Linked DNA regions of Homo sapiens: region 2 is linked to region 1. The links come from fine-mapping of genetic effects on gene expression. A gene starts in region 1. The other region holds a variant in brackets. All regions are shown on one strand. Distances are from middle to middle.

Region 1 (2,908 bases):
CCCCCCAACCCCTGCTAGGCTGGAACGCAGTGGCTTGATTGCAGGTCAAACTTCTGGGCTCAAGCAATCCTCCTGCCTCTGGCTCGCAAAGCTCTGGGATTACTGGCATGAACCATCTCACCTGGCTAACATTTATTTTCCCTCTATTGTCTTCAGAAAACCCCCAACTTTTCATCTGGAATAATTTTAGACTACAAAAAAGTTATAAAGCTAGTATACCCTTCACACAATTTCTCCTAATGTTAACATCTTACATAACCATTATACATTTCTTATAACTAAAAACTACTATTACCTAAACTTAAATTTTATTTTAAGTTTATAGCCTAGCTACATCACCATGTTGCATATGACAGTGTCTCAGTTTTTTTCTTGCTTTTGATTACCTTGATAGTTTGAGGAGTACTGGTGAGGTGTTTTGAGGAATATCCCACAAACGAGATTTGTCTGATGTTTATCTTTCAGTTAGACTGAGGTCACGGTTTTTTTTTTAATCACATGTCAAGGGCAAGTGCAGTGACTAATCACTTTGATTTTCACGTGGAGTGGCTCTACAGCCCTCTTTCCACACTGTACTCTTGGAAAGGTCGTCCCCAGGCATAGGCCACACTCAGGGTGGGTGTGGACGGATTACCACACCCCTCTGGATGAGGTATTATTAGAATTCCTCTGCAAGGAAGATTATCCCTTCTCCCTCATTTATTTAATCACGTATTTATAGCAGCACGGGCTCTGGGCTGTTTTATACTTTAGGTTATAACTTAATGCAATGTACTTTATATTGCTGCTCAAATTGTCCCAGGCGCGGCCCCCGGAAGCTCTCTGGGTAGATCCCTGCGCCCTTGGACGCCCGGTCCTTCAGTTTTTTGAGCACCTCAAGCTTCTGGCCTACAAAACGCTCCCGGCTCAGCTGGAGCTTTCTGCGCCCGGGTCCTAGAGTCGCCCATTTCTCTAAGGCGCCTTGGCCCTATTTTTAGAGAGCGGTATTTAGAAACCAAGATTAGGGTGCTAACAATTTTTTTTTAAATTTTTATATTTTTAAGACAGGATCTCACTTTGTAACACTTCCTTTTAGTGGAAGCGCCGACCTCCTGGGAGACCCACGCCCCCTGCCGCCTTCCGTCCCGTTTCTCAGAAAACCACCCAGACACCCCGCCCCACCGGCCGGGGCCCGCCGCGCATGCGCGCCGAGGCGTGACGTCAGAACGGCGGCCAGGACGCCGGACGTGCGGCAGTTGCAGGCGAGCAGGCGAGGAATCGCCGTGGCGTCTTGGTGTTCTCCACGCTGGTTCGCAGGTGAGTGTCCCTGTTTAGTCCGGACGACCCTAGCTCCTTTCCCCTCTGGCCCGCGCCTCTCCAGATTCTCCTCTAGAGCTGCCCAGCCTCGCGCCCCTCTGAGGGGACCCCGCACCGCGCCACCTCCGCGGTGTCCCCACTCCCTAATTTTCCCTGAGGCTCCTGGCCACGGGTCCGCCCACCTCCCTGGACCACCCTGACCTTCCCCAGGTCCGCCCTCTCAGTCTCCCCTAGAGCAGCCCATTCGAGAGCCCTCCCAGTGGGCCCCCCCGGCCTCTCAGACCCCTTCCCATCGCTTCCCCGGCGTCCGCCTCCGGTCCTTTCCCCGAGCCCCTCCTCTCCGGCCCCGCGGACCCTCCTCCTTTCCCGACTGCAGCCTCCGCCTTGCATCCTTTCTGGCCGCTCGGGAGTGTCCCACATGTCTGACTGCCGGGACCTGCTGCGGCCCGCCGCCTGGGGTCTCCCGGCGTCCGATCTCTACCCCTGCTGCTCCCTCTGCTCCAGGGAACTTGCCTTCTCAGTTCTCCTGCCCAGAGGTCTCCCCTCCTTAAGTCCCGGGGGGCGTTGAGGCTTTACCCTCGCGGTGCGGTCCGCCCCCGCTGCATTTCACCTGCTCTTGGCCTTGCAATGTCTTTAGTCATAAGTGCTTGGTGTACCTTATCTTACATATCTCTCTTCATGTTTGATTCTGTTACTCAACTAGATTGAAAACTCCGGAGGTCAGGGATTTGCATAGGGATCCCCGCCCCGCCACCCCGCTTAAATCTCAAATGTAGACCGGTTCAGGGTGGGTGGAGGAAAGGAATGAGGTGGAGTGGTCACTGTAAAAAATTAAAGGAACATGGTTAATTCAAAATAATACTGACTCATGGTCTCAGCCTTTAAATTTTTAGTGCTTAGGAAAGGGTGGAACCACCACCGAGGGAGGAGGGCTGACAGCTGAGGGGAGGAATATTCCAAGGTCTTCTGTGGCCTTTGGTATGAACCAGTACCAATTCAGGAAGTGACTTGTCCGAAGTCACATGAGGAATTAGGACCCGAGCTGGCACTGGTAACTGCCTGTTTAGTGTGGCCCTCAGTATTTGTTGACTAAACTAATGACCAAAACATGTATGCACAGACACAGCTGTGCGTCTGTGCCCATGCAGTGGGTGTGTCTGCCTAAGGACCTGTGGGGGTGTGGGAATACTGCTGTGACGGTTCAATTGTGGTGCTCAGGAGTGTTCCCTAGGTTCAGAAAGTTCCTAACCCTGGGCTGGTTGGCTGGATATTGATAGGACTGGAGCTTGTCTGGGCTTCCTTTGTGCCTGGTGTTTACTCTCTGTGGTGGTGATCTCTTTACTCGACTCTTCCCTATTCGTACTGATCTCCCTGAGGACAGGAATCAAACTGTGTTGCAGGGTTTCCCTAATAAACAGCATAGTGTTTGGCACTTTGTAGGTGGTCAGTAAATGCTTATTGAAGAAGGCTGCAGAAAAGAACTCAGAACCTGACAGCGGTTCTTTGCTAGCATTATATTTTAAAGGCGGTGGTACATTCTGTAAGTAAATTTCCTGCTATTCTCAAGGACTGAGTTGATTAAATGTGTACAGCAGTGGTATAGAGAGGACAG
Region 2 (2,908 bases), 30 kb after region 1:
TTTGATCCCACACAGTCTTAATTATTGCAGCTATTATAAAAAGTCTTGGAACTGGGTGGACTGATCAACACCCTCTTTGTTCCTTTTTGGAAATGTTTTAGCTATTCTGGTTCCATTAGCTTTCCATATACATTAGAATAAATTTGTTTATATCTACAATGAAATCTTGCAAGGCTTTTGCAGGAATTGCCTTAAACCTGTGTCATATTTATTTGGAGAGTAATGACATCTTTATTGAATGTTGAATCTTCCAGTTATAAACATGGACTGCATGTGTATTTAGATCCTCTTTGATTTTTTTCATCAGCATTTTGAGGTTTTCAGTATAAAAATCCCATACATGTTTTGTTAGATTTATAAGTGTTTCAGTTTTTTTAGTGATTGCATATGGTATTACATTTTTAGTTTTAGTTTCCTTTGTTTACTGCCAGTATAGAGAAATAGAATTGATTTTTGTAGGTTGATCTTGCAGCTTGTAAACTTTCTCTTTTTTTTTTGAGACAGAGTGTCTCTCTTATTGCCCAGGCTGGAGTGCAGTGGCGCGATCTTGGCTGACTGCACCCTCCGCCTCCTGGGTTCAAGCGATTCTCCTGCCTCAGCCTCCTGAGTAGCCGGGATTACAGGCACGTGCCACCACACTAATTTTTTGTATTTTTAGTAGAGATGGGGTTTCACCATGATGGCCAGGCTAGTTTCAAACTCCTGACCACAGGTGATCCACCTGCCTTGGCCTTCAAAGTGCTGGGATTACAGGCATGAGCCATGGTGCCTGGTCGGCGCCTGTAAACTTTCTAAGCTCACTTACTCTATTTCCTTTTTCTGTAGATTCTTTGGGATATACTACATAGGCAATCATGTCATCTACAAATAGGAATCTGTTTTCTTTGTAACCTTTATGCCTTCTGTTTCCTTACCTTGCCTTGTTGCCTTGGTTAGACCTTCAAATATTATGTAGAATAGCAGTAGTGAGAGAAGACATCCTTGCCTTGTTCCTGATTTTAGGGGGGATGTATTCAGTGTTTTTTTTTGAGATGGAGTCTCGCTCTGTCACCCAGGCTCTGGAGTGCAGTGGCGAGATCTCGGCTCACTGCAAGCTCCGCCTCCCGGGTTCACACCATTCTGCCTCAGCCTCTCTAGTAGTTGTGACTACAGGCACCTGCCACCATGCCCGGCTAATTTTTTTATTTTTTTTATTTTTAGTAGAGACGGGGTTTCACCATGTTAGCCAGGATGGTCTCGATCTCCTGACCTTGTGATCCACCCACCTTGGCCTACCAGAGTGCTAGGAATACAGGCGTGAGCCACCGCGCCCGGCCAGTGTATTCAGTTTTAAGTATGCATTCATTTATTATGAATGTACTGTTTAATTCAGTATTTAATTAGTACTGAATTCAGTATTTAGTTTTACATATGCATATATTTAGTATTTAATGCATTCATTAAGTATGCTGTTAGCTGGAGGTTTTTTATATTTATTCTTTATCAGGTTTAGAAATTCCCTTTTTCTAGTTTCCAGGAGTGTTTATCATGACTGGTTGTCAGTTGCTTGCCTGCCTGTCTTCCTGCCTCCTCCCTCCCTCCCTCCCTCCCTCTCTCCTTTCCCCCGCCCGTCCCCTCTCCTCCTCTCCTCTCCTCTCTCCCCTGACCCCCTGAGAGATGAGGTCTCACTCTCTTGCCCAGGATGGAGTGCAGTGGTACTATCATTAGCTCACTTCAGCCTGGAATTCCTGGGCTGAGGCAATCCTCTTGCCTCAGCCTCCTGAGCCACCATGGCTGCAAAAAAATTTTTTTTT[T/G]TTGTTGTAGAGACAGGGTCTTGTTCTGTTGCCCAGGGTGGTCTTGAACTCCTGGCCTCAAACAATCCTCCTGCCTGGGCCTCCCAAAGTGATTTTGTTAAATACTTTTTCTACAGTAATTAATATGATCATGAGATTTTTCTTTTCTTTTTAGCCTGCTAATATGGTGGATTATAGTGTTTGGTTTTCACATACTGAACCAGCCTTGCATTCCCTGGAATAAAGCCTACTTGGTCATGGTGTATGATTCTTTTTATTTATTGCTGAATTCAGTTTGCTAATATTTGTTAAGGATTTTTGCGTCTATATTTATGAGGGATATTGGTCTATAGTTTTCTTTTTTTGTACTTTGTTTTGTTTTATCAAGGCAATACTGACCTTATAGAATAAATTGGAAAGTGTTTTCTGCTCTTTTCTTTTCTGGGAGAAATTGTGTAGAATTGGCATTAATTCTTCTTTAAAATTTGGTAGAAATCTCCAGTGAAACTGTCAGGGCTTGGAGATTTCTTTTTTGGGAGATTTTAAGTGACAACATCTTTTTTCTTTTTTTCTTTCTTTTCTTTCTTTTTTTTTTTTTTTGAGACGGAGTCTCACTCTTGTCGCCCAGGCTGGAGTGCAGTGGCGTGATCTCGGCTCACTGCAAGCTCCGCCTCCCGTGTTCACGCCATTCTTCTGCCTCAGCCTCCTGAGTAGCGGGGACTACAGGCGCCTGCCACCACACCCGGCTAATTTTTTTGTATTTTTAGTAGAGACGGGGTTTCACTGTGTTAGCCAGGACGGTCTCGATCTCCTGACCTCGTGATCTGCCCGCCTCGGCCTCCCAGAGTGCTGGGATTACAGGCGTGAGCCACTGTGCCCGGCCTCTTTTTACTTTTTTTGGCCTAACCAACACACATCTATTTGTCACAGTTCTGGAGGCTGAAAGCCCAAGGTCAAGGTGTTGGGCAGCATTGGTTCTCCTGAGGCCCCTCCTGCGCTTGCACATGGCCTCCTCCTCCCTGTATCCTCACATGACCTTTCTTCTGGGTCCACCGCAGATACAGCTTTCTTATTAGTGACTGGTCTACTCAAATTCTCTAGTTTGTATGGAGTAGGTTTTGACAGTTTGTAGTTTT

The links. PIP is the estimated chance that this variant, and not a neighbour inherited with it, causes the effect.
Region 2: its variant is fine-mapped to the expression of PLEKHB2 in whole blood (TOPMed, PIP above 0.99).

What each region holds. Positions count from the first base shown.
Region 1 is chr2:131,104,103-131,107,010 of GRCh38, forward strand. It overlaps PLEKHB2 (pleckstrin homology domain containing B2), which reads left to right and starts at 1,234. Exons shown (of 8, transcript NM_001100623.2): 1 at 1,234-1,296. RefSeq lists an enhancer at 958-1,087.
Region 2 is chr2:131,134,592-131,137,499 of GRCh38, forward strand. All of the region lies in intron 6 of PLEKHB2 (pleckstrin homology domain containing B2), which reads left to right. Among named protein-coding and RNA genes, the nearest start is that of PLEKHB2, 31 kb to the left of the region's middle. The variant T/G (reference allele first, on the strand shown) is at 1,794.